Homo sapiens: one gene and its partners. The protein of the gene in region 3 purifies or fractionates together with the protein of the main gene of each other region. This does not show direct contact. Each region holds a gene or a part of one and is shown on either strand. Other genes may lie near its edges. The genes, in order: SMARCA4, CABIN1, UBN1 and ASF1A.

The links.
Region 1: the proteins of UBN1 (region 3) and SMARCA4 purify together in Homo sapiens (affinity purification with western blotting; 2 studies listed by BioGRID, with this or other methods). This does not show direct contact.
Region 2: the proteins of UBN1 (region 3) and CABIN1 purify together in Homo sapiens (affinity purification with western blotting; 6 studies listed by BioGRID, with this or other methods). This does not show direct contact.
Region 4: the proteins of UBN1 (region 3) and ASF1A purify together in Homo sapiens (affinity purification with mass spectrometry; 7 studies listed by BioGRID and IntAct, with this or other methods). This does not show direct contact.

The regions. Positions count from the first base shown.
Region 1 is NC_000019.10:11,027,004-11,034,029, forward strand, and holds part of SMARCA4 (SWI/SNF-related matrix-associated actin-dependent regulator of chromatin subfamily A member 4), read left to right. Parts: intron 1-780; coding exon 781-947; intron 948-3,726; coding exon 3,727-3,890; intron 3,891-6,286; coding exon 6,287-6,514; intron 6,515-6,763; coding exon 6,764-6,862; intron 6,863-7,026. UniProt on the Homo sapiens protein: ATPase involved in transcriptional activation and repression of select genes by chromatin remodeling (alteration of DNA-nucleosome topology).
Region 2 is NC_000022.11:24,006,312-24,014,319, reverse strand, and holds the start of CABIN1 (calcineurin-binding protein cabin-1), read right to left. Parts: upstream 3,017-8,008; 5' UTR 2,953-3,016; intron 2,951-2,952; exon of another isoform or gene 2,592-2,950; intron 2,563-2,591; exon of another isoform or gene 2,407-2,562; intron 1-2,406. UniProt on the Homo sapiens protein: May be required for replication-independent chromatin assembly. May serve as a negative regulator of T-cell receptor (TCR) signaling via inhibition of calcineurin. Inhibition of activated calcineurin is dependent on both PKC and calcium signals.
Region 3 is NC_000016.10:4,871,456-4,878,481, reverse strand, and holds part of UBN1 (ubinuclein-1), read right to left. Parts: intron 6,501-7,026; coding exon of another isoform or gene 6,497-6,500; exon of another isoform or gene 6,314-6,496; intron 6,295-6,313; coding exon of another isoform or gene 6,264-6,294; exon of another isoform or gene 6,204-6,263; intron 5,599-6,203; coding exon 5,548-5,598; intron 5,452-5,547; coding exon 5,409-5,451; intron 4,272-5,408; coding exon 3,048-4,271; intron 1,612-3,047; coding exon 1,371-1,611; intron 1,098-1,370; coding exon 1,008-1,097; coding exon of another isoform or gene 877-1,007; exon of another isoform or gene 630-876; intron 544-629; exon of another isoform or gene 433-543; intron 1-432. UniProt on the Homo sapiens protein: Acts as a novel regulator of senescence. Involved in the formation of senescence-associated heterochromatin foci (SAHF), which represses expression of proliferation-promoting genes. Binds to proliferation-promoting genes.
Region 4 is NC_000006.12:118,904,148-118,909,693, reverse strand, and holds the end of ASF1A (histone chaperone ASF1A), read right to left. Parts: intron 4,043-5,546; coding exon 3,866-4,042; intron 2,293-3,865; coding exon 2,080-2,292; 3' UTR 523-2,079; downstream 1-522. UniProt on the Homo sapiens protein: Histone chaperone that facilitates histone deposition and histone exchange and removal during nucleosome assembly and disassembly.

The DNA of each region.
Region 1 (7,026 bases), on a different chromosome or scaffold from region 3:
CCTTTGTAAGGGGCAGCCCAGACTCCTTTAAGCCCCTAATGGATGTGGATGCTGTGTCTAGATTTTCACCATTGCAAAGAACCTTGCTAAAAGCATTCTTCCAGCTAAAGCCTCCATTCAATTCCCCTGGGGTAGTAAGCCATTTGCAAGAAGAGAGGCGCCTAATGAAAACATCACAAATTCTTTTTGATGTGTTTTTTTATACTGAGTTGTGGAACAGGGTCCTGTACACCTGGCTTCAAGGCTGGGAGGCCTGGCTTGGACATGTGGTCAGCCATATCACGTCGTCCCCCTGCCAGCCTCAGTGTCCACATCTACAACACTTGGGGTTTGGCTGGAGAGAACATGAGAAGCCGAGGTGGCCCTTCCTTCTGGGTCTAGCAGAGCATGGGTGTCTCCAGTGTGGCATTTGCTCCTGGGGCTTCTTTATCGGGCAAGGGGACAAGGTCTGGCTTCCCGGAGCATCCCTGTTCCAGCCCCGTGTTGTGCCGGCCATGTGACTCACAGCTCCTCTCATTTTCATGAGTGTCTGGGTTTGACGAGAAATACATGTGCCACCCTGGTGATACGCCTCCCCAGCGAGGGTGGCCGGGCTTATTTCAGTTGGGGGAAATGGCTTTGCTGAAGCTTTGGGTGGGTGACGTCTGCTTAGGATGCATGTCTGTGCCCTTGAACCCGGCGCCTGGCCTGGAGGCGGGCGATGCACCTCCTGCCTTACCTGCCTGCAGGGTTCCAGGTTTAACATCCTGCGCCTTCTCTCCTGCCTCCTCCACACTCCAGGCTGGACCTGTACCGAGCCTCGGGTAAATTTGAGCTTCTTGATAGAATTCTTCCCAAACTCCGAGCAACCAACCACAAAGTGCTGCTGTTCTGCCAAATGACCTCCCTCATGACCATCATGGAAGATTACTTTGCGTATCGCGGCTTTAAATACCTCAGGCTTGATGGTGAGTATGAGCCAGTGAGGCGTTTCTTACAGGGTTTTGTTGTTGTGGCTGCCACAGAAGCTCCTCACTGGCATTCCCTCCTGTGAGGCAGGGTGAGGCCCAGGCGCTCTGGGTCCAGTGGCCAGAGTGGGCCTAGCCACAGGCTGAGCATCTTGGGCACTCGGCACTGGGACAGGCCGTGGATTGGACGCCGGGTGTCCTGACTCCTAGGCTGACAGTCTTTCCACGACAATGCTGGGCGCACTGGGGAAGGGGTGCCCTGTGCACTTTTAGCTGGAAGTGACAGAATTCCATACCATGTGGACACAGGAAAGAAAGCACCAATAGGCTTACATAGCTCTAACCCCAGGAGGTTAAACATCCTTCAGGCACAGCTGGATCCAGGCATGCAGGTGATATTGGAGAGACTTTTCTCCAGCTCTTTGCTCTGCCTTCTTCCATCTTGGCTTCCTTTCCACCTGCTCAGTGTCCCCAACAAAGGCAGGTCCCAGGCTGGCTCTCATTTAGCTGCTGTGAGCCGCATGCCCATCCCTGGGCCATTCGTAGCAGCCCAGTGACTGCCACCTTGCCACAGGTCAGGCCTGGACCTGGAATCAGACTCTGTGGTGAGCACGGAGGGAGGGAAGCAAGCACTGCCAGGCAGGAGCAGCAGCTGCCGTAGAGAGGCTCTCAGCCCAACCCCCTGCCCTGCGGTCCCTGATGGGAAAGGTCACCGCCTGTGTTTCTGCGCCTGCCTGCCCCAGCACACGGGAGCTCAGGGAGGAGAGGCTGTGAGATGCCGACAGGGCACGTGAGACATGTCTGTCAGTCCCAGTGGGTCAGGGAGCCCTGGAGTGAGTTCTTCGTGGGAGTTACTAGAACTGGGCTTACGAGAAACACGAGCATGAGCTGCTGAGACAGACACGGCTCAGCCAGTTTGTTGTTCCCTACACGACCTCCCAGAGCCTTTGTTGAAGCTCCTGTGCAAGGTCTGTCTCACAGCAGGACACCCCAGACCTCCATACCCCTTGTCCCGTTGATCACTTGGACCTGTGTTTGCTGGGCCAACCTGCCCAGGTGCCACCCGGAGTGTGCCCTGTGTGTCCCTCCAAACTGCAGGTCCTCCCCGGGGTTCTGTCCAGGACCACTCTACAGACACGAGTCTGTTGCAGGGGTCTCCCCGGCTTGCCTTCTTCCTTGGGGGCTTCCCACTTTCAGCTTTGAGGCTGAAAACCAAAATCCTTCAGGGTCCTCATGGCCGGGCCACCCCCCACCCTTTCCTCTCCTACGGTCTCTCCAGCGGCTTCTCCCGTCCTCGAGAGGGCCAAGGCTTCCTGAGGGCCATCCCGTCTGTGTCGTGTCCCTGACTCCCCCAGGAGAGAGCCTGGTTCCCACCCATCCCAGTGCCCTTCTGCCTACTCCATAAGGACAAGGACTTTGGTCAGTTGAACTACAGATGTGTCCTCTGCATGTGATGTGGTCATGGCCACAGGGCCAGAGAATCCATTGCGAGTAGAGGAAGGGTAGGAGCTCAGTGAAGTCTCCTGAGACTGCATCTCCCATGGGTGGGCTGGCATCTGGGAGCCGGGTGGCCCCTCACCTCAGCCCCTCCTCCGAGCTGGAGTAGCAGGGGCACATCTGGTGCCTGAGAGAGGGTGGGACGGCAGGTGGATGGCCAGGCTACTGTGGGCTTCTGCACCGTGCCTGGGCATGTGTAGGCTGGTGGCAGGAAATGGCCAGTTTTTATTTCTTCTTTTTTTTGAGACGGAGTTTCACTCTTGTTGCCCAGGCTGGAGTGCAGTGGCATGATCTCAGCTCACTGCAACCTCCGCCGCCTGGATTCAAGCGATTCTCCTGCCTCATCCTCCCTGGTATCTGGGATTACAGGCGCCCGCCACTACGCCCAGCTAATTTTCTTGTATTTTTAGTAGAGACGGGGTTTCACCATGTTGGCCAGGCTGGTCTCGAACTCCTGTCCTCAGGCGATCCACCCACCTCAGCCTCCCAAAGTGTTGGGATTACAGGCATGAGTCACCGCGCCCGGCCTGCCAGTTTTTATTTCATCACCAAAATGACTTCAGTGTTCAGGGGCACCTCTGTCCGAACTCCCAGCAGCGCAGGGAGTGTTGACATTGCCTTAATGCCCACAACGCTGAGGGCATCGTGGGTTGTCACCCAGGAGACCTGCTCTGGCTCCTTGACTTGGGTTTTCTGGGGCATGGGGACACTGATCCTGCCAGAAAGGACACGAGCCCCCTTTATAAGGTCTCCATGCTTTTACCGTAGAAGATTCTCTTTGTGAACCACAAAACTTTTTGAGACAGGGCTGAAGGCAGGTGCACCCACAGTCACTGTCCACCCACCCCCAGGTCCCTTGTGTTGCGAGCGGCGGTGTTGCCGGCATTGGCCGCTGTGTCTTCCGCTCCCCATGGAATGGCACAGGGTAGAGTAGAGGAGAGAATCCAGGGCTGTGGTGGTGGTGGCTGTGCTGACGCTGGACGCTGTGGCCTAGCTGTGGGCTGGGTGCTGGACTCTGTGCTCCAGGCCCACCTCCTCTAGTTCTCCCAGCGGGGCCTGTTTTCATTTCTGGGATGTGTGGAGAGACGTTTTGTGGTGAAACACTGGAAATCCAGTTATTCGCCAGTGGCCCACAGGCCCGTGTGGAGAGTGCGGAGCCAGGGATCTGGGGATGCTGGCAGGTGCTGATCCTGCTCCTGCTCTCAGAAGCAGGTGTTCCTTGGTGTCCCCACTCTACCCCTGAGGTCACCCCGCTGACCCTGTTCTCCTCTGTGCCCGTCAGGAACCACGAAGGCGGAGGACCGGGGCATGCTGCTGAAAACCTTCAACGAGCCCGGCTCTGAGTACTTCATCTTCCTGCTCAGCACCCGGGCTGGGGGGCTCGGCCTGAACCTCCAGTCGGCAGACACTGTGATCATTTTTGACAGCGACTGGAATCCTCACCAGGTAAAAGCGGGCCGGGCCCCAGGTCGAGGAGAAGGAAGGGGGTGCCTGCAAAACCTCGAGGAGACGGCCCTGGCTTGAGGGTCCTCCAGCCTCCTCCACATTGTCTTGGACCCCAGGAGCCGGGAGGAGCTGCACCCATATCTCCATAGGTCATCAGGGAGAAAAGAGGCGGGGTCCTCCTGTTTCCCAAAATACAAACAGCCTTTCCCTCTGATTGGGAAAGCAGTGTATAAGCCATCCGTCGGTTTGGTTTTTCTTAAATCTTGGAATGGCACCCATGAGGAGGTGGAAAGTATCCTGATCAATCTGCGCCGTCACTGTGGGGCGGCCCCTGCAGTGTGCCCTGTGAGCACACACACTGGCGCTTGTTCAGACACAATTGGGGGTAAACTCCATGCCACTTCGTTTACTTCCTCCTCTTGTTCCATAACCATGTACCCCTCATGGGCCTCGGCATCGGTGGATACCAGGTCATGCTGTTACATAGCTACAAGAATTTGAAAATGAGTTAAACTTTTCTCTGTGTTTCATTATAAGACTGATAAGTTCTTATTGTTTTTAACATGTAAACACCAGTGACAGTCAGGAGTCCCTTTTCCCTTCCTCTCCAACCGTGCTCTCTTCTGAGCCTCTGCCAGCCCATCTGCCTTCGCACATGTATGTACTGAGATTAACACAGATGCGGCGTGGCCTAGCATGTGCCTCTTCCACCAAGCAGTGGGTGTCAACCGCCGAGTGCACATCGGAAGCTACCCAGCCATCTAATCGGCCACCAGGCGTCCCGGCAGATGGCCACCCCTGGACGTCTGCTCTCAAACTCTGGTTGGCAGGCATCCGTCTTTTCTGTTGATCAGCCTGGTCACCAACCCAGCAGGGTCCCTCTTTCTCTCAGAGTGCTTGTGCAAACACCCTAGGTCTGCGCAGCCCTCAGACATGGGGTCGCTCCACCCCAGACATTGTCCTCTTCGTGTTCTGGTTGCTACTGCCAAAGTGGTTTCACTCCTACGCTGGGGTGTGAATGTACCCTGCCCTTCCCTGCAGCGTGAGGGCAGCAGCGTTCTCAGTGTGTAAATTGTCGCTTGTCTGATGGGTGAATGCCGTGGTGGTCACTGGTGGCCCCTTTTACGATCAGGCTGGGGTGTAGCTTCTGCCCAGACCCTGGTGACCAGCCAGTTTCTTAGGAGGTGGTTGAGTTGTGTGTCCCCGTTGGCAGGCCGGCAGCAGGCGGAAGCTGCACCTCAGGGCTGGGGGCGCGTTGGGGAGGGCTGGCCCTGCCAGGAAGTGTGCTGACAGGGCAGGAGGGCTGAGCGGCAGACACAAGGCACTCCTGGTCCCCACCAGCTGTGGCCTCTGCCACCCCATGGGTGCCAGTCTTAAGTTTCAGAGCATCACTGGTACTCACCCTGGTCCTGCAGCTCCTGGGCCCAGAGACAGGATTTCGTGTTAGCCTCCTCGTACTGTGCTGGGGTGATGATAAAACTAACAACCCAGGCTGGACGCAGTGGCTCACACCCGAAATCCCAACATTTTGGGAGGCCGAGGTGGGTGGATCAACTGAGGTCAGGAGTTCGAGACCAGCCTGGCCAACATGGCGAAACCCTGTCTCTACTAAAAATACAAAAATTAGCCAGGCATGGTGGTGCATGCCTGTAGCCCCAGCTACTCAGGAAGCTGAGGCAGAAAAATCGCTTGAACTTCGGGAGGCAGAGGTTGCAGTGAGCTGAGATCGCACCACTGCACTCCAGCCTGGGCGACAGAGCGAGACTTTGTCTCAAAAAAAAAAAAAAAGAAAAAAAGCCCATCCACGGCACCTGCATTGTTGGGAGCTAACTGCACCAGTCACTGGGCCACACTCCTGGTGCTTATTCACTCATTCGAGGTATGCAGTAGCCACGGGTTGGGCCCCATGTAGGCTGAGGGAGTTTTGAGGCTCACAGAGGTGAGACCTGGTTCCGGTTCTGTGTGCACTGTGAGAGTGGCAGGGCCCACAGCCAAACCAAGCACTGCCACAACACGGCCGAGCTTCGGCCCCCTGTTGTAAATGGTGCTCGACTGTGTAGGTCCACGCTGTGGGGAGCTGTGCCGCTGCCACGGGAGCTGCTTGAGAATATAATCCCCTGGGGGGTTGGTGCTTTCTTCCCGAATATCTGTGGGGTCCCAATAAGGTAGAAGGTGGCACTTCTGGAGGAACGTGATGAGAGTCCCCTTCCCCCGAGGGACACATGGCGGCCCAGGCTCCACCAGCTCTGTTTTCATGCGGCGGCAGGTCAGGCTGGGCAGAATTGTCAGGCCGAGGGTGGCACGCACAGCACACCTCTCCAGCTAGTGTCAGAGGCCACCTTCCCTTTTATGACCTCCTGGGCTCCTTTGGGACTGACTGGCACCTCTTCCCCCAGGACCTGCAAGCGCAGGACCGAGCCCACCGCATCGGGCAGCAGAACGAGGTGCGTGTGCTCCGCCTCTGCACCGTCAACAGCGTGGAGGAGAAGATCCTAGCTGCAGCCAAGTACAAGCTCAACGTGGACCAGAAGGTGATCCAGGCCGGCATGTTCGACCAGAAGTCCTCCAGCCATGAGCGGCGCGCCTTCCTGCAGGCCATCCTGGAGCACGAGGAGCAGGATGAGGTGAGCCCAGCACCGGCCCCGACCCCTCCCCAGCGTGAATGGTGGACGCGTGAGCGGCTTTCATTTTTGTTTTTTTACCTTTTTTGCACTCTTATTTTTTTTGCATCCCTTTGGAGTAAAGGGAGTGTGGGCTGAACGGAAAGAGGATGAGTACTTGCTTTTTCTTTGAAGTGGTTTTTTTTTCTAAACTGCTGGTGAAAGACGCCGGATTGACAGCCCTGGAGACTGAAGTCCTCTATTTATCCACAGAGCAGACACTGCAGCACGGGCAGCGGCAGTGCCAGCTTCGCCCACACTGCCCCTCCGCCAGCGGGCGTCAACCCCGACTTGGAGGAGCCACCTCTAAAGGTGAGAGGGGTAGTTCAGTCTCCATGCCCATTCAATCCTCGGCTTCTCGGCTGAGACGGCCAGCAAGGGCCCTGGTCCCACGGAGCGTGCGTGTGCGTGTGCGTGTGTGTGCCTTTCGCTGCCGTGTGGGTCCCCATCCACCGCAGCCGTGCCGGGACCACCAG
Region 2 (8,008 bases), on a different chromosome or scaffold from region 3:
TTAACTCATAGAATATAATACATATCCATGGCCTACACTGACACATAAATAATCAAATAAATAAATAAAAGAGAGAGAGGGTAGTTCTCCTTTCAGTAGAACTTGACTTAATAATGTAGAAGGAAAGAGAGAAATAATTACCTTTAGGCAAACACCACAAAGATCTGCAGATGGATGCTAAAGTCAGGGAGCAAATTTGTGGAGAACGAGAATTTGTGTCCTCTCAATGTATCTCTCCCAAGAGACTTATTAATTAGAAAGGGATAGTAATTTTATGGTGTAGAAACCTGGTAGACACCAAGTAAACCAATAGATCAAGGTAAATATCACCAGTAATAAGACATTCCAATATCTTGGACTCCATGTGATGCACTGAGAAAGACACAAAGATAATGTGTCTTTGTGTTCTGGCCAACAATGCATAATCTCACCCCAATCATTAGAAAACACTGGACAAACCTTTAAATTGAGAGACGTTAGACAAAATAACTGATCACTACTCTTTAAAAGCATCAAAGCCAAGGAAAACAAGAAAAGACTAAGGAAGTGTTATGGACCAAGGAGAAATAACTAAATGCAACATGGGATCTTGGATAGGGTCCTGGAATGAAAACACAACCTTAATTTAAAAAATGGTAACATTCATATCACATCTGTAATGTAGTTAATAATACTGTACCAACACTAGATTTCTGTTCTTGATAATTGTATGATTATGTAAGATGTTAACATTAGGGAAAGCAGGGTGAAGGACATAACAGAGCGTTTTGTATTGTTGCAATTTTTCTCTAAATCTAAAATTAGTTTAAAAAGCTTAAAAAGAGGCCGGGCATGGTGGCTCACGCCTATAATCCCAGCACTTTTGGAGGCCGAGGCGGGCGGATCATGAGGTCAGGAGATCAAGACCATCCTGGCTAACACGGTGAAACTCCGTCTCTACTAAAAAATACAAAAAACTAGCAGGGTATGGTGAGAGGCGCCTGTAGTCCCAGCTACTAGGGAGGCTGAGGCAGGAGAATGGCGTGAACCCAGGCGGCGGAGCTTGCAGTGAGGCGAGATCGCACCACTGCACTCCAGCCTGGGCCACAGGCGAGACTCCATCTCAAAAAAAAAAAAAAAAAAGCTTAAAAAGAAATAACCATTTTGATTATATATTTATCATCTGTAAGCAATGTGAGGATGGTAACCATTTATGTATTGTTCACCATAAATCCAAGAAACTCACTAAAAGGAGCTTTTAAAAAAAAAAAAGCTATTGAGGCCGGGCGCGGTGTCTGACGCCTGTAATCCCAACACTTTCAGAGGCCGAGGCGGGTGGATCACCTGAGGTCAGGAGTTTGAGAGCAGCCTGACCAATACGGTGAAACCCCGTCTCTACTAAAAATACAAAAATTAGCCAAGCATGGTGGCGGGTGTCTGTAGTCCCAGCTACTCGGGAGGCCGAGACAGGAGAACTGCTTGAACCCGGGAGGCGGAGATTGCAGTGAGCCGAGATCATGCCACTGCACTCCAGCCTGGGCGACAGACCAAGGCTCCGTCACACACACACACACAAAAGCTATTGAATAATCATGAAAAAGAAAAATATCTATTCATTTCTGACTCCCAGCCCAGCAGCTGCATTTCCTCAGATAGCAGCACATTCACCAGGCTTATTAGTCTAAGCTAATAAGTTTCCAAACCCCTTAGAATATAGTTTCCATGGCCTCAGAACACGATAAAGAGTAGCACACCTTCAGACCTCAGCACCCTGATCCAGAGTGATAACTGGGGATGTTTCCTGGCCTGGAAGGTGGGAAGCCTATGTCTTAAGCTCAGTGGTGGCAGTGCCCTGGCTGTGTGACTGACTTGACATAGATGTCAGTCTCTCAGTCTGTTTCCCCTCATGTATGAGGCTTTGTACTAGATGAGGGTTCTGCAAGCTAACCAGCCCACCCTTTTTGTACAGCCCACGAGCAAAGAATGGTTTTTACATTTTTTCATATTTGGGAAAAAAAATCATGACACGTGAAAATTATATTAACAATATATAAAATTAAAACTTCGGTCCCTATAATTAAAATTTTATTGCGACGCAGCTAGTCTGTTATGTATTGTCTTTGGCTGTATCCACACTACATCGCTACAGTTAAGTAGACAGAGTATGGACCCCCCAAGCCTAAACTACTATTATGAATACTATTATACTCATTATACTTACAATATAACAATGTAAACACTGATATATTTACAACAAAAGTTTGCCGACCGCTGAACGAGACTGTTCTAAGCATATTCTATTTCTAACCACAATAATCACATAGAAAGAATCTTAGCCACATGGAATCCGACGGTCCCACACTTATAACCTGTAATAACCCAGGTCCTGAAGAGTTAAGTGACTCCCAAAGCCACTTGTGCAGATACCTTGGGAATGCCAGGTGAGTTCCATCTGGCCAGGGCCCGCCTCTTGCGGGGAGGCAGTGAAGCAGAACGGTCAAAATTTTCAGTCTGGAGTCGCGCTCACCCACTGGGTGACTTGGAGCAAATCATTTCACCTACCCGCGGCCTCAGTTTCCACCCCTGTAAATGGCACCAATAACAACACTCACCTCGCAGGGCTGCTGTGAAGGTGAAGCGAAAGGTCGCGAGTAAAGGGTTAGCGCGCTGGGCTTTGCACCCAGCAGACGCCAAATCAATGGTGGCTCCTGCGGTTACTGGGAACCTCCCCGGAGGCCGGAACCCATTCTAGGCACCTCAGGGCGGCGGCGAGAGCCATGAAGAGGCTCGCGAGGCAGCCAGGAAGCCCGGCCTCGGTTTCCCTGACTGGGGCTCTAAAGCTGCCCGCGAAACCCCCAGCTTCCTCACGTAACCCAGCCTCGCGCCTGCAGCCCCTCCGGCCTGTGCCCCGGGCTCTGCTGAGCCTCACCCCCACCCCGGCACCGCCTTCAAACCAGCCTTCCAGGAACTCACCAGGCGTCTCCACAGCAACGGCCAGTCTGTCCCGACCACCGCGCCGTCCGGCTGCGCGCCTGACAACAAGGCGTGCTCCCATTGGCTCCGGTGCCGGTTGTGCCAGCCAATCAGCGGGGGCGCACGCGCCGCTCGCTCTCCGCGGGCTGCTTAGCTGGGGCCCTGCAGACGGCTACCCTTGGGCGGCGCGCGCGCGCGTGCGCGCGTGTGTGCGCGTGTGTGCGCGCGTGCGCGTGTGCGTGTGCGTGTGTGTGTGTGTGTGTGTGTGTGTGTGTGTGTGTGTGTGTGTGTTGCGGGAGTGGAGCTTGTTGTTTCCGGATCCCCGTCGTCAGTCCTAGCGTGCTGGAGGCTTAGAGCACCAGCTCGTAGTCGGACTCTCTTCTCCACAGCTTGCACCCTGAGCAGTCACTAAATGATGGGCTGTGTGTTATTACCTGGGACATGTGCTCTGAAAACAGTGGAAACTTGGGGAACACTTAGAGCGGGGTGTCCAATCTTTTGGTTTCCCTGGGCCACGTTGGAAGAATTGTTTTGGGCCACACATAAAATACACTAACACTAAGGATAGCTGATAAGTTAATAAATAAATAAATAATAAAAATAAAAATCACCAAAAAATCTCAAAATGTTGTAAGAAAGTTTATGAATTTGTGTTGAGCCGCATTCAAAGCCAAGCAGACCAGCGCGTTGGAGAAACTTGACTTAGAGGGAACCAGGGAGGAGGAGCATCCTCATTCATTATATTACCTGTGCCTCTCTTTCCAAAAAGGATGTGAAGCCCAAAAGGAACAGATACAATAGGATATTGAAACAAAAGGAAAAAAAGGAACAAAACCTAGTAAATGAACAAGAAGAGGGGTCATGGGTGGTGTCAGAATTCCAGAGATGAAAAAAGGCGACAGAGTTGAAGGGGTTCTGTCAAGGGTCTTGGGCTGAAAGATGGTACTCTCTTGGGAGCTAGAATAACAATAAAGCATTGTAGGGAAGAACTTTACACTGTGGTTGAATTCATAGCTGCTTGAGTCTTGCACAGATGATTCAAATAGGAGTGAATGTTGGGGGCTTTTTAACCTCAAAGACAGTAACAGCATGGTGAAAAACTCAGTTCAGTACAATAAAGCTATACTGATAAGCTAGAAGTTCTGAAAATTGTTGAGTCACCAACCTTGACTTTGAGTATTGGGGTAAACAGTATTTGGGGGGTAAACAGAAGCATAAACAGATGGTTTCAAAGCTGCATGGATAACCTTCAGCCTCGGATACAGCTTCCACTCAAGCCTTATCATGAAAGATGCGCTGGAGAGAAACAGTTGAAAATAGGTGGGAAGGGTGGTCCAAGCAGCAAGAAAGTTGTGTGGGGAAGGTCCGGAGGTGAGAAACATGCAGATCATGCTGGAGTGTCATGCAGCACAGTGTTACCGTGAGGCAAAGCTCAGGGCCACAGTGGGGAGAGAGCACTCTGGAGAGTTAGGAAGAGGCCAGTCCAAACAAGCAAGCAGAAAACATATTGTTGCAGTCTTGCCCGTGCACCACAATGTACCAGTCTCTCATTGTGGGGTATCACCCAGAATTCTTTGTCTCACGACCAAGAAAATTAGGGAGTGTGGACACAAAGGGTAAGGTTGAAGCAAAAGTTTAATAAGCAAATGAAGAAAGCTCATTGCAGCTGGCGGGGGGCCCAAGCAGGTTGCCCATTATGAGGCTGGGTCAGGGGGTTTTATGGACTGGGAAAGGAAGGAATGTACTGACTGGTCTTGGAGAAAGCACTACTCAGCTTGGCCCCTGGACCTTGAGGGACCAATCAGGAGCTGAAGTGATAGCCTGGCCCAGGACCAATCAGAGGCTCACATTCTAAAGCACGTCCAAGAAAGGAAAGTGCCCACTGGAACCCACTGTAGCCCACCGTGTACATGTCCACAAAAGGAGAAGAGACTATTTCCTGGAAGCCCACTGGTTATACAAAGGACAAAGGCATTTCTATGCTGGGTCTTGTTCCCTTATCAAAGTAGCTGTGGGCATGCCTTAGGCACAAAGATCAAAGGTGTTTCTGTGTTGGGCATTGTTCCTTTATCTGAGTGAGCCAGAGGTTTGTGCAAGTTTCCTTATCTGTGCCTGAAGCCTGATTTTTCAGGCTGTTCCTCTGTTTAAAGGAGTTTTACCAAGGACCCACCTTAATTACCTAACTTTTCTCTCTCAATATCACTCTCACTACACTGAGGATGGCAGATTTAACATGGGGAATCTATATCAAAGACTGTGGCCTTATGGTCTTGGTGAGAGTTAGGCCTGAATCCCATCCATGGTGACCGCAACGATTCATTCATATCCAATGCAAGCATTCCCTGAGGCACTCTGGGAAGCAGGACACCATGAAACACACTGGCAGAGGAATGAGTGCAAAATACTTGGGTCAGGGGTCCAGGGGAAGGAACTCCAAGGTCTAGCTATCAATGAAAGTCCTTAGCAGTGGTTAGGTACAAACACACCAGGCACAGGCATATTCCATTAGAAATTGATTTTATTAACTACATAGACTGCACAGACTGAAAATCTGAATTTGGTGTTTCACTGGTACGCTAAAGATAAGGATCATCAAAGGTTTATGCAGGGAAACAGTGACCACCACGGTGTCCAAGGGTCATTAGAGGAAAATTCTGCATGGAACATGTGGAAAGCTACAGAAATGGAGACTCCCTATAGGCTCCCCCACACCACCCCTACATACTTTGACATTCAACAGACTGATAGGATATTTAGATAAGAGGGTGGGGACCTCATTCATTCAGTTTCAATGCAGTTTCGGCGCTGACATTGCATTTCCAGGTTTGGCATTCTGGGACATGGGTTTTACAAGGTGCCTAGCTACAGAGAATTATCAGCAAGAGTTAACAGAGAAGATGAAGTTCTCTGCCCAGGAATGCCCAGAGAAAGTCCCTGAAGACAAATCTGCCCTGTGCTCTGGCCCACTACAGCAGACTATGGAGAGGAAACAGCTCAGAACTAGTGGAGAAGGGCTGAGCAACTCCTGGAGGTCCAGAATTCTGGGGAGGGCAGGTGAGAGGAGCAGCAATGGGGCTTGAGCTCTTCCTGGACCTGACACACTATCCACTTTTGCAAGACAGAATGACATCCCTTTTGAGCTGTGGATGGTGGAGTTGGCTTGGGGTGAGCCAGGTGGCTGGGCTGGGCCCCATGGAGTGGGTGCCAAGGACCAGGCCCTACACTGAGCCTTCTCTCCTTTCTGCCCACCAAGGGAGCACCTGAAGCCTGAGTTCCTGAAGGTGAACCCCCTGGGGAAGGTGCCTGCCCTCAGAGATGGCGACTTCCTACTAGCAAAGAGGTAATGGTGACCTGGTGCCCACCCAGGGTCAGAGCCAGGATCTGCCTGGGTTCTGGGGCTCAGAGTTGTAGGGGGAGGCAGAGGCGAGAGGGGAGATCTTTCCTTGGCTTGGAGATCTTTCCAAATCACTGAGGCCCCTTCCTCATTTCAGCCTGTGTAGCTCCGATGCAGAGGCTGGACCCAGGGGCACCTTTGGGCTAAAGCTGGAGGCTGGAACCTGGCTAGAGTCTGAGCCAGCTGGAGCTGCCCAGGTGGGGAAAGGACGTAGGTCACCCGGATAAACCTGGACAACCTGAAGCCAGCGGGCAAGGCCCAGGCTTGAGGCTGGCTCCTCCCCAAATGTCCCCAGCTCATCCTTTCAGAGTCCTAGGAGCTGGGCAGACCCAGGGGAGACTCCACATTCAATCCCAGCTCACCACTTCCTCAATCCATGCCCTTGGGGAAATCACAGAACTTTGTGTGCCAGGTTTCTCCTCTGTAAAACGGAGTGGGAGGAATAATGTATCCACCTCCCAGGGCTTACCTGAGGATAGAAAATGGGCACCTAGTGTTCTGGGGCACTAGGAAGGGAACTTGGAGACCTTTTGGGCAGGGCCCACACGGCAGGCACTCTGAGTGGGGACCCTGATGCCAGGGAGTGGGGCCTGGGCACAGAGGGCAGGATGGTATGGTAACTGGGAGGGGAGGTGGAAACATGGGCCCAGGGAGGATCAGAGTTGGAAATGGAGAAACAGAGTGGTTTGGTCGTGGGGAGATACTGCCTGGAGGGAGTTGCAGTATAGGGGAGGTCCTCCCCTGAAGGTGAAGGTGGGGAGAAAACCTGGTCAAATCACCCTGAGTATGAGCAATGAAGCCACCTGGCCCTGACAGGCTGGAGAAAAGATCTCTGACACCCCCTGCCCACAGCATGGTCATCGTTTTATACCTGAGTCGAAAGTACCAGATACGGGGACACTGGTACCCACCTGAGCTGCAAGCCCGCACCTGCGTGGATGAGTACTTGGCGTGGAAGCATGTCACCATCCAGCTGCCTGCCACCAATGTCTACCTGTGCAAGGTGAGCTTCCTAGGCCCTGTCATGCAGGCTGGGGCAGGGGCCTGGACCCCCAGAGATGGAAGGCACCAGTTGGTACATATTACATATTAGCTTCACTTCCACTGTCCTCAGCAGACATAACTAATCTATCACAGTACTCCTTCCCCTAAGCCTGAATGAATCCTTAGAAACCTTCTGAACACAGAGCCCCAGAGGACATCACTAATGAGTGGCAGCCGGGAAGGGATGGAGAGGAGGCCCAAGAGGCTTCCAAGAGTCTGGGTTAAGTTGCTCCTCTCCTCCCAGCCCAGTCTCTCCTGCCCCACTTCTCCGGACAGCCTGCAGATGCTGCACAGCTGGAGCGGCTGTTGGGGAGGCTGATGCCAGCCCTGCAGCACCTGGATTGGGGGGTGCTGGTGGCCAGGCCCTTCCTGGCAATGGAGCAGATCTCCCTGGAAGACTTGGTGCTGACGGAGGTGATGCAGGTGAAGCTTTCCTACCCACCTGCCCTCTGGGGGGACTCTGGGCATGGGGCTGAGCCCCAACCCCAGCTGCCCTGTCTTCCCAGCCCACTGCCGTTGGCTGCGACCTCTTCCAAGACTGCCCCGGCTGGCAGTGTGGCAGGCCCGTGTGGCGGCTGCCCTTGGTACTGAGCTCTTGCTGGAGGCCCACAAGCTCAT
Region 3 (7,026 bases):
GTGTTTACTATAATGCGCCATGGTGCCAGGGAGCCACAGCACATCATGAGGCAGATGTAACTTGGGAGACGTGCAGCACAGAGGGTCCTTACTTCCACCTGGCACCAGTTCGCCAGGGTTACCTCGGCTGGCTTCCATACGAGCGGCTCTCCCCTTATCCAAGTAGCACCCTGGTCATGTCTGAAGCGGGTCTACAGTAGGAACAATGCTAGGTCAAAGCTGAGACACCATGAGACTTCCCATGCCAGAATTCCAGGAGGCGTACCCAAGAATCGCAGACTCGGGATAGGGTGAGGCAGACGCACTCAATGCAAAGGTACCAACCCGGGGCACCTGAGCCCAGTTCTCAGGTGCTACCAGAGCAGCCTCAAGCCTGAGGCTTTTAGAAGTTCCCTATTTCAGAAGATGCTAAGGGGAGCACCGACCACATGCCTGCTGTGCTCCCACAAATCTGTTCTGATGGAGTTTTCACACTTGGACAGATTTAAAGCTGCTCCTCTCAAAGTCTTGCACTGTGGCCTCTGGCTGCTACCTGGATTTTCCCTTTAATGGAAACAAAGTTTAGAGAGCCTTCTGTTAAGCAATCACATCTGACAGTGGAGCAGCTTGCATTCCAAGACCTTGTTGTACCCAATTAGCCCTTGGAGAAGATGCACCATTACCTTCCCTTTTTTTTTTTTTTTAAACTGAAGAGAAAAAAACAAGCCGAGGGTTAGGAACTCCTCCACCGCACACAAAAGCGCACCACCCTGCCCCCCGCAACTTTCCCTGTGATCACACAGGCTGAGGCTGACCTGGCGGCAGCTCCAAGTGGGGACCAGAGGAAACCCCAAGAGTAGAAGTGCGTGTCACCCTGAGTACTGACAAAGCACAGCCTCAAAGGACAAACCAAAACAACAACAGCGTCAAGGCAAAGACACCAAGACCCTTGGCAGCGGCAAAGCACCTAGGGGTGGAGAGGGCAAAGGCACACGGTGCGCGTGGCACACTGACCGTCGGGTGATTACCTGGCAGACTCTGCGGGATATGGGTGGGCACCGCAGCGTGTGGGAGAGGCGCTGCATGGGGCGGGCTGGAGTGCAAGCCAGCCAGAAGACCTGAGAGAAAACAGGAGGGGAGAAAAGAACAAAACACACACATTGAAGACAGGAACAGGAAAGCAGCTCCAGCAGCCAAAAGCCCCCGATAACCTGCCAGGCCAGTCTGGGCACCACACCCAAAGGGGCAGTGGGGGCTTGGCACAGTTCCCGGAGATGTTCCCCACAGTCACACACCAGACTCAAACACAGGAACCAGAGTACACAACAGCAGGACCCCTGGCCACAATCTAGAGGTTCCTGAGTGACCAGAGGCAGCAAAGAAGCACTTACTGTGGCCAAGGCCATGGTGGAAGGACCCGGGGGCAGGGCCTGTGACGATGGCATCCTTGGAGACCCCTGCTTTGGCAGAGGAGTCAGCGCTGAAGGAGAGCACATGGACAGGAATAGGGACAGGGGTTATAATTCCCAAGGAGTTCGAGCTCATGGCCCCAGACAGCTTTGGGCTGCTGGATTTGTAGGGTGAAGCCATCAAAGAGGAGCCGGCCAGCAGCACAGTCCCACTCGCTCCTTTCTAGGGAAGAAACACAGCAAGCGGTAAGAACTCCAGTCCTGTTCGTGGCTCACTCACACCAAACCTGGCAACACAAAGGATCCTCCTTGTGTGTCCACAAAGGAGGACATACACATCCATGTCAGATGGCCCTGGGAGGCACCCTCCGACCCTGCAGCCCCAAAGACAGGATCCAGGACAGTCTTTATGAACCAACATGGAATGGATTCCAGGGAACATAATTTTTTTAAAAGCAGGATATTAAATATGTCTCCTACAGAGGTTGCAGTGAGCTGTGATCGCGCTACTGCAGTCCAGCCTAGGTGACAGAGCCAGACTCTGTCTCAAAAAAAAAAAGCCTCCTTTGTGAAGGGAAAAATGTAATATAGATATCCATAAATGTTCATGGATATTTATATGTGTATATATATTTATATACATACATACACACACATACATATATACCTTTATTTATATTTATTAATCTTTTGTTTAAAAAGAGGAAAATAAACCAGAAACTAAAGAGCTTAGTTACCTTACAGAGGTGGTGGGTGCAGGAAAGGAGGTGAGACCTCCAACAGACCTTTCTATGGTTTTGTCTTTGCAACCACTTCATTTATATATTAGAAAAAGAGGCCGGGTGCAGTGGCTCACACCTGCAATCCCAGCACTTTGGGAGGCCGAGGCGGGCAGATCACGAGGTCAGGAGATCGAGACTATCCTGGCTAACATGGTGAAACTCCATCTCTACTAAAAACACAAAAAATTAGCTGGGCGTGGTGGCGGACGCCTGTAGTCCCAGCTACTCAAGAAGCTGAGGCAGGAGAATGGCGTGAACCCGGGAGGTGGAGCTTGCGCTGAGCCGAGATAGCGCCACTGCACTCCAGCCTTGGTGAAAGAGCAAGACTTCGTCTCAAAAAAAAAAAAAAGAAAAAAAGAAAAGAAAATGCTCACTCCCTCTTCCCGAACCTGCTGTGATTACACACAAGCGAGATGCATTAATTATTGGACTCTGTCCTTCAAAAACCAACAGAATCACTCTTAGAAGGTCCTGCTATTCCTGGTCCATGAACACCTCCACATGACTCAACTGATAGAAGACAGCATTTCCAGCCCCCTTTAGAGAGATGGAGAGGCAAGGGGTCACGGAAGGCAAGGGCTGTTGCTCATTCTGTGCCACACAGACAGCCTCCGAAGAGGCATGGTGCTTGGTGCTGGCCATCCTTTAGGTCCCTCTGCCCTCCTCAGAAGAAGCTTTAGGCCATCCTGGGCTTCCTGTCACCAGAAAAGTGAATACCTGAGAACAGGGAGCCCAGTCTCCCTTCCTACGTCTGAGCCCACTGTTCCTACCTGACCTGTGGTTTTAGATCTCACTCTCCACCCGGGGCAAGGCAAGCAACCTCATCCCCAAGGCCCCTGTGAGTGGGGCAGGGCAGGCTGCTATGACAGATACTCACTGACAAGGAGGTAGACGATGTCACACTACTAACTGCAGAGGGCTTTAGGGACGGCGAGGTCAGCAACTTTGCCACTCCCTGGGTCCCACCACTGGAATCTCCGTTTGGACCGCCTGGAGGGGCTACCAGAGTCAACTTCTGGGAAACAGGCATTTTTTTCCCTGCTGAACTTGGGACGGGTCGGCTGGTGGCCTGTCCCACGGAGGGAGGCTGTATGCCAGGGACCAGGCTCCCAGAAACAGAACTCTGGACTGGTGTTCCTCCCGAGGAAGAGCTGCCAGAAGAAACCCCATGTTTGGAGATTGAGCTGGCAAAGGGATTATTCTTGTAAGATGAGCCTGCAGAGCTGACTGAATGTGGCTTTGCTGGATGGCTCAGGGCAGAAGAGGACGAGGCTGGGGTCTTGTGAGAGCTGCTGCTGGAGGCTGACAGGCCTCCTGAGGTGGCTGGTGCAGAGGGATGGAAGCCCTGGCCTTTGGCCGCTGTCTTCACTAACTGCAGGAGGGAACGATGACACTGTGTGGGAGAAGCCTTTGGGCCTTGGAGCTTATTGGCAAATGGAGATGGGGGCGTGAAGTTTTTCTGCTGCTGAGTGCCGGCATGAAAGACTTTGACCTGGGGGCCAGGCACAGGAACTGCCACTTGGGGCCCGTGAGACGTCCGTGGCAAGCTGTGGTGCTTAGCTTTGGACTGATGTACTTCTGGCAGGCCCTTATTGAGGGGAGCCTGGCAGGACAGCTCTTTGTAGCCAGAACTCTCTGGTTTTTTCTCCTGAGAGGACTGCCCCAGTGCCAGAGCCTGTTCTGCCAGAAAATTGAGGGGTGACTGCAGAGAGCTAGCTGGTGGTGGAGCAGAAGGACTAGGCTTCGCAAAGTTCCTTTTTTCTTCTGTACATAAAACGCCTCCAACTTTTTCTGCAGGTGCTTTTGAGGGTGCAGGCAGTGTGAATTCAGAGTTCCCAGCTGCTCTGCTATTCAATGCAGCCAATTCCTTGGACACGGCTTCCACCGAGGAGGCTGGATTGCGGATCAAGTCTTCATCCAATGAGTCCTCCAGGTTGACAGGAGGAGGGTTAGCAAGGCCGCCCGATGCCTGGGATGGGAGCTCCCTGCTCGAGGCCCCAATACTCAGGCCTCCTGTTTGGTGATCTGAGGGCAAAGCAATGGGGCCACCAATCTGTCCTGATGGGACAGAAACCTTTTTATCAGGCTTCGTAGACGATTCCTAAAGGAAAACAGAAATGTTGATGTTTAGAAAGGTCCAAAGATGCCAACATTGGCCTGTTGTGAGGATACAAACATGTGAACTCGAGTCAAAAAAACTGGGCCTTCCTGTATAATTACAAGACAAGTGGTGGGACAGAGCAGGAGCTGTGCCCGCCTTGACTTTAGATGCCATGACTTCATCACCCCTGGTGAGTATCTGGTTGGCCAGGGCTGGGTTTACCCCGGCATGCTTCGTTGCTAAGTACAAACAAGCCGCCAGGAGAAACTTTCTTCTGTTTTGAAAAGCGTTAAGACTCTCGTGAAGAGATACTCTGCCTACTGGCATTCCCACTGTCTCAGCGCACTCCTAGCTGCAATCAGACCAAGGCATGGCATGAGAATTGCCTTAAAGCAGCTATTTTTCCCTTCTTGATTTTTCCCAGCACCCATCTCCTCAGACTGGGTTCAAAGAAGAGTGAGCTTTTCATGGGAACAGGAATGGGGTCTAATCCTTCACTCCTGCATCCCTGGTGCTTAATACAGTGTGTCTGGGACATTGTGGGAGCTCAACAGATACTTAGGAGTAAATGATTTGCACATCTCATTCTCACGGTCTGCTTAGGGATGGCTAAGGGCACCACACTAAGAACTGGGAAAAATGTTGATAAACAGCAATTTTTACTACATTGAGAGGTTTCTGCAACATCTAAGGTAATTTTCACAGTGTCTATTCTCCAGCCACTATATTGCCCTCCATTTCTGCCTGGTAGCTCAGTAAAGTCGCCTTTTCTTTCTGCTGTGGCTCCAAGCTAAACTGCACTTGGCTAGAGTGTATTTCTTCCATACAAAGATCACAGTGTAACACGTTCACACCTTCAGGGACTACTGACTCCTCAGAGGGCTGCCAAGAAGATCCCACTTAATCCCACATGAACCCCAGGAACTGGGCCAGCTGGGTACTGTTTGTAGAACCAAGGCTAGAGGGGGGTTAAGTGGCTTGGGTCTCTGTCCTGTTATGACTTCAAGAATGTCATCCTGAGCAGCTGTCCCCAGACGAGCAAAGATCAATGAGCTTCCACAGTCACTTGACTGTTTCCAGAGCATAGTTGTAGGGAGATGGGCATAGCTGACATGTGACCCGAGCAAACTGACTCACCTTCACCTTGATTTTAGAAGGGGCCATAACTTTCTTCTTGGCCCTGTTCAAAGGAATGAGCACAGAAAAGTTTAGAGAATATCCAGAGGAGACCAAAAACAACACTTGTCCCGAGATGTGAAAATACCAAGACACTCACAGGATTGAAGTCAGGTGCCCATGGCCTCGTCTGCTCTCCTTAAACAGAGTTCTGAAAGACACAGAACACCAGGCATCTGTACATGCCCCAGAAAGCTGGGACTCTGCTTCCAGAACTTTGCTAGTGTCCCTGGTCCTCAGTAGCTATCCCTCATTAAATGTCAACTGGCCAGGCGCAGTGGCTCACGCCTGTAATCCCAGCACTTTTGGAGGCCAAGGCAGGTGGATCACCTGAGGTCAGGAGTTCGAGACCAGCCTGGCCAACATGGTGAAACCCCGTCTCTACTAAAAATACTAAAATTAGCCAGGCGTGGTGGCGCACGCCTGTAATCCCAGCTACTCGGGAGGCTGAGGCAGGAGATTCGCTCAAACCGGGGAGGCGGAGGTTGCAGTGAGCCGAGATCGTGCCATTGCACTCCAGTCTGGGCAACAGAGTGAGACTTTGTCCCCGCCCCCCCACCATGCCCACCCACCCCCCACACACACAAAAAAAAAGGTCAATGGATTGGGGAGCCAAATTCCTGGTGAGAGGATCTCAATGGGACACACTGGCTGCCCAAAGGCTGAGTCTGGCCTTTACCAAGAAAATGTATGGCTCTGCCTCAAACCTCTCATGGTGATGCTTCCCTAAAGGGCACAGCACTTTCCTTATTGCCTAGTCCCTCCATTCCAGGAATAAAATGTGGAGTGACCCAGCATGTCTTTGTCCAGAGAAACTCAACAAAAACGTTCTTCGTATGAGTCCAGCCTACGTAGAGAGGACAGCAATTTCAAAGGTTCCAAGATCTATCCGCACAACAGATGATTCGAGTCCAATCAAGAAAATCACTCCAGCTAACTTTCTCTGTCCCATGTATGACACAAATACTTCATTCGCAGGAAGTGACTTCGTACAAGGTAGCCTCTGAGATGGAAGCCTGGCACTTAGTTCCAATAAGGAGTCAGCCCTGCTACCTGCAAATGACACTTCTTCAGGAACATCAGGAAAGACCCAAGATGAACCCATCTCTCAAATGCTCATAGCAGCCTGTATGTTAAAACAGGAAGTGTGGCCGGGTGTGGTGGCTCACGCCTGTAATCCCAGCACTTAGGGAGGCCAAGGTGGGCAGATCACAAGGTCAGGAGATTGAGACCATCCTGGCTAACACGGTGAAACCCCATTTCTACTAAAAATACAAAAAATTAGCCGGGCATGGTGGCAGGCACCTGTAGTCCCAGCTACTCGGGAGGTTGAGGCAGGAGAACGGCGTGAACCTGGGAGGTGGAGCTTGCAGTGAGCTGAGATCATACCACTGCACTCCAGCCCAGGCAACAGAGCGAGACTCCATCTCAAAAAAAAAAAAAAAAAAAAAAAAAAAAGGAAAGTGCATATTGAGATGGGAGGCCAAACATCAACTGAAGTGGGACAAAAAATGACAAAAACAAAACCCTGGAGGCAACTTCCCTTCCTCCAGGGAAGATCCAGAAGACCCTTTCCCAG
Region 4 (5,546 bases), on a different chromosome or scaffold from region 3:
GGGCAAATAAATGCATGCATACTTCTTCAGACCTCTGGAATGTTTTCTCAGCCCAAATAATACCCTTAATGCCTCCATCTTAGTGGCATAAGTCATTGGTTCATGTTTATATTCTTAGGACACAGCTATTTACTATGAGCAAAAGGGTGGAAAATAGTTCTTCAGATACAGTATTGGCAAATGACGCTAGACCGGGTGGAAAAAAAACTTATGTGCTACAGTTTCTTACGTTTCTAATGTTTGAAGTCTAAATCTATTTTCAGTCATTAAAAAAATTCTTAGAGTGATAAAATTTAAGATAACAAAAGGTAATGGTTCGCATGTCCCAAGCTTAAGTGAAAATTGGTTGTCCATTTACAACTTGATACAAAAACCTAACCCTTTGATGTCACTACAAATAGATTGTTATAATTAGTCAGAATAAAAACTCAGCAGTAAATGGCTTTATTTGGTGATTTGGCTGTATATGCTTTATTTCTAATAAGCACATATGTTGTTCCTATTATATTAACCACTGAGCTCTTTGTTGGAAAGTAATGCTTTTATTTTCATTTTAATATTTTAACATTTTTCTTTTAATTGCAATTAGACAAATGAGATTTTCTTTATATAGTTTTAACAGTCAGAAGTATTTTACTTTTAAAATCTATGAACTAGTTAATGGACAATATTTTAATAATCTGGTATATTAAATTCAAAGTTTAACATCTGGCAAAACTTTGCTTCACAAATTCACTTTTTTAGAATGATAGGAAATATATACAACTCAGAATCCATGTTTAGACAAATGCCCTTTTCCTTTCCTCAACATAAAAGCTTTAAAAAGTGCAGTATAAAAGTTTTAGATATGAAGGCACTGCATAACCTGCATCATATGGCTGTCTTGCTTAGCTGCAAGAATAATGAAAATATTCTACCTCAATTTTATGGAGCATAAGAAAATTTTTTGAGGAAGGACTTAACTCTCAAAGAAAAAGAAACCTTTTACCCCATTTAGTTAATGAATTCCTTTCCAAGATTGCTTTTCAAAGATTTGTTGGAAAAGCTATCTAGAGTATGTCAACCACAAATATGCCTGATCTCATTCTGCATGAGTGTCAGAGGAAATGGGGAAGAGTACTACAGGTGTGAAAATATATATATTTCCAAAATAGTAACGTATCTATTATAATAAAGCTAAATATACCTTTCTAAATCCATGGTTTTTATATAAATACTGCCAATAACATGATCTATTAAAAGAATTTTTAAAGGTCATGGTATTTTTAGAAATCAAATGAACCAATTTGAGCCATTGTAATCCCCTATTCTTAAACACAGGGAGTTTGTATTTTCTCCCGATATTGTATTTGGTCTTGAATTCACTGGACAATAATGATGTATGATTCAAGAAATGCTCTGATATTCTAAACTCTGTTATAAGAACAAAAACCATAGCCAGGGGACCTTATTAACAATTAGCCATATTTGTTCTTCTCTTACCAAACAAACCAAATGCTGTCCAACATCTCATGAACTATAATAGTAGCCATAAGAGGCTTCACGGTGGCTTGGAAAATTGGATCCTAAAGTTCTTGGTAGCATATAGTTGATTTCAAATCCTCTTTTTAAGGACATGCCAAAAAAGAATGGAAATCTGCCCCTTAAATTAAAATGATACCATATGTCTTCACAGGAAGAAACATTTTAGTTGAAGTAAACTTTGTTCTTTCAAAGGCCAGTAAAATAGTGGTCCAAAGACTGTCTGGGAGGCCAAGACATCTTTACAACCTGGTCTAATGATTCCTGTTTCTTTATAAGTGCTTTCATTACATATAAAGGAGAAGAAAATAATATATATGCTTTAATCAGATTAGTTTCAGAACAAATAAAATAACACATTAGAGAAAAAAATTACTTAAAAATAGTTGTATTTATATTCCACAATTTGTTCAAATACTGGTTTTCTTATAAACTTTCTACAGGATGTTTTTAAACAAATTCTTCACATTGTGTTTTGACTATGTACTTACGGAATTTCAGGGAAATAGTTCTGTGTATTTTTAATAGCTTAATTTGTACTAAAGGGATGGTAGGTGGTCACATGCAGTCCATGTGGGATTCTAACATGACATTTAGTGAGTTTTCTGATGTGGACCATCCCTTTGATGCTGAAGGTAATGCATCTGTTGAAAGAAGTGACTGTAGATTTGGATTACTGCTCTCTGCATCTTCCAGTTTTTCTGTGTTATCTTCCCAATTAATGTGGAATCTTGTGACCCTGGGATTAGATGCCAAAATATTCCTTTGAAGCTAGAGGAAAAAGGAAACATACAAATGGTAAACACTAAGAAAGTTAAATCACCATATACAAATAGAAGCTTAATAAAATGGTTCATGTTAGTACTCCTAAAGGGCTAAGTTCATATACAAAGGTATAATTCAAGTTAAGTACCTTAAATATAACTAATAAGATGTAACGACTAGGGCTGTAGCAAAGAAGTTATTTTAGATTAACAGAAACAAGATACGGAGAATCTGAGGGGATTCATCTGGCTTTTTAACTATTTAACTCCTATACTTCTGTTTTCTAAAAGAAAGAATCTCCTCATTTTTGAAAATGAATGCTTCAGAAGATGCTTTATTTAACAAGCTACTATGTTGTTTAGATTGGTATGTTTTCAAAGGAAAATGAAAAATTGTCAAATACAACTTATTATTAATGGTTTCCTACACCTTTTAAAGATGGCTCATTCTTAGAAACAGTCCTGTTTCTTTTGTGCTATATAAGGTGCTTCAGGGATAACAAATTGGATCAATGGAAGGTACAACAAGGGTGAAAAATAGTCCGGCCTTATTATCAGAAAGAACATGAGAACATTCTATTCTATTGTCATGTAATTTTTCTTGCATGGTTCAACTTCATTTACTCTGCACTCTCACAAAATCACCAGTTACCAAACTGTTATAGTTCCCAGTGAAAAATCAGAAAATACTAAGTATCTTTAAGAATGCTGAATCCTAGATTTCAGCTTCTCACTCAGAATTTAAGCTGTTTTCAGTACCAGAAATATTTAAGACTGTTAGTTTAACTTCTAAGAATAGCAGATAAAGCGTATAGGTGTTTTGAGATAACCGTATTCATAGGAAAAACAAACATAAAACTTTCATAATTTTGGGAAGAGTTACACACAAAAATATCATCATTGAATAATTAGTACAACAAAAATGCATTTGTTTGTCCTAAAGGTTGAAATGAACAGAATCATGATGGGAATAATCAATATGGGAAATGCTATAAAGAAAGCCATAAACAAAGGCCTGTCTTACAAGAAGTACTTTCTCTGGGCGTGGTGGCTCACACCTGTAATCCCAGCACTTTGGGAGGTCAAGGTAGGCAGATCACTTGAGGTCAGGAGTTGGAGACTACCCTGGCCAACATGGTGAAACTCCACCTCTACTAAAAATACAAAAATTATCTGGGCGTGTTGGTATACACCTGTAGTCCCAGCTACTTGGGAGGCTGAGACAGGAGAATCGCTTGAACCTAGGAGGCAGAGGTTGCAGTGAGCCGAGATCATGCCACTGCGCTCCAGCCTGAGCAACAGAGCAGGAAACCATCTCAGAAAAAAAAGAGGTACTTTCATTTTTCTAAACCAGAAATGCTCAAGGTGTCTGCCTACATTAATTACTAATGACTCATCTGAAGGTAGGGTTTGAAGTCATCCATGGTAATGGAACAATAATTAGTTTGCCCAGTTGGCATAAGGACCTCATATTTATTTTATCTCAAAGCCATTTTAATAGTATACTATGAAATTGCAATAGCAACTGCTTTAAAAATTGCATAGTAAAAGTAGTTAAAAAGGAATAGTAAGAACATTACCTTAGAAAAGTCTGGTTTTACTGGTGGATTTTCCCTTAATTCTGTCTCAGTATATTCATTATTTACATAATAGCCAACTCTAATAAATTCTTGTCCTCGATAGGTACAAGTAATTAGCACAACAGTTACGCCTACTGCATCTGCATCTGGAATGAGTCCTGGATTAGGTGCATCAGCCTAGAATAAATTAAAAAGAAAAGAAACACACACACACAAAAGGCTGTTAGTGGCAGGCAAGACTGGAGTTTCAGTTACCTAGAACCATCAGTTGAGGATGCAACAAGAAAAACTTGGAAATCATACTGGGAAGGAAAATGCTCATTTCTGACTGACTTATAATAAGCTGGAAAAGACAGTTCATGTTTTGCCACAATATATGTAAGGACCCTTGATACTTGAAAGCATGACTACACTTGTAAAAGGAAGAAATTCTGGCTACACTGCATGGTGGTTCATGAAAGGATTATACACTATTCATTATAAAACCTTTATAGTCAGCAATTGATTTTAACCTTTTCAGTCATAATTTTCAGACCTAAATTAGTAAGTATTAAATGATCTCCTCATAGACTGTTGGCCACAAATGTTTATTATACCAGTTTCCCTCTTCAACCCAGGATACTTATATTCTCATACCCACTCAACCACCCCCACAGGTATTCTAATAGTAAATTAGTATAAAACTGAAAATGAGGTTGGGTGTGGTTGCTTACACTTGTAATCCCAGCACTTTGGGAGGCCAAGGTGGGTGGATCATGAGGTCAAGAGATTGAGACCATCCTGGCCAACATGATGAAACCCCATCTCTATTAAAAACACAAAAATTAGCTGGGCATGGTGGCGGGTGCCTGTAGTCCCAGCTACTTGGGAGGCTGAGGCAGGAGAATCACTTGAACCGAGGAGGTGGAAGTTGCAGTGAGCTGAGATCGCACTACTGCACTCCAGCCTGGCGACAGAGTGAGACTCCGTCTCAAACAAAACAAAACAAAACTGAAAATGAGATGGAAATAGCTACATAGCAGATTTTCAAAAAATATTAATAATCCTCTATTATGAATAGTTACTTTGCTAGACTCTACAATATAGTATGCTCTTTAAACCACACATAATGTGGAAACCAGTGAAGGTAAGGATTGCTTTAGGCAGATGTCAAAGACCTTGTTTTAAATCAAGCTATTGTAAGGTGAACCTTGAGGAATGCAGAAAGTAAACTGAGTTAGACTAGACTAAGAGCATGAGCGAAGGGCAGGGCCCCATCCGTGGTAGGGTGCAGGTAGTAATGAGACGACCGGATGGAAGGAGCCAGACTGGGGAACACAGGCAGTGATGGCTGAGGCATCTGAGGCAGCCATTCTGGGTGGTAAATGGATCAAGTCCCAGCAAATTAGCTTACCTGTTGCCAGGGCACCAAGGAATATTCCTGGGCCTAGATGAGCACTTTAGCCAATGCCTTAGCTTGTGAAAATTGAAGACTGTTGTTTACTGTATGCCTAACACAGGTAGATGATACAAAAAGGCATAAAATCGCTACCTAGTGTCCTAGGCTAAAAACCTCAGTCAGCTTCACTCCCTTATCTCCTACATCTAGTCAGTCTCAACATTTTTTTCATTTCTGGAGGCTGAATTCATGTCATCTCCTATCTGGAATATTGCTTAGAATTTTCTAACTGATCTCCCCAGC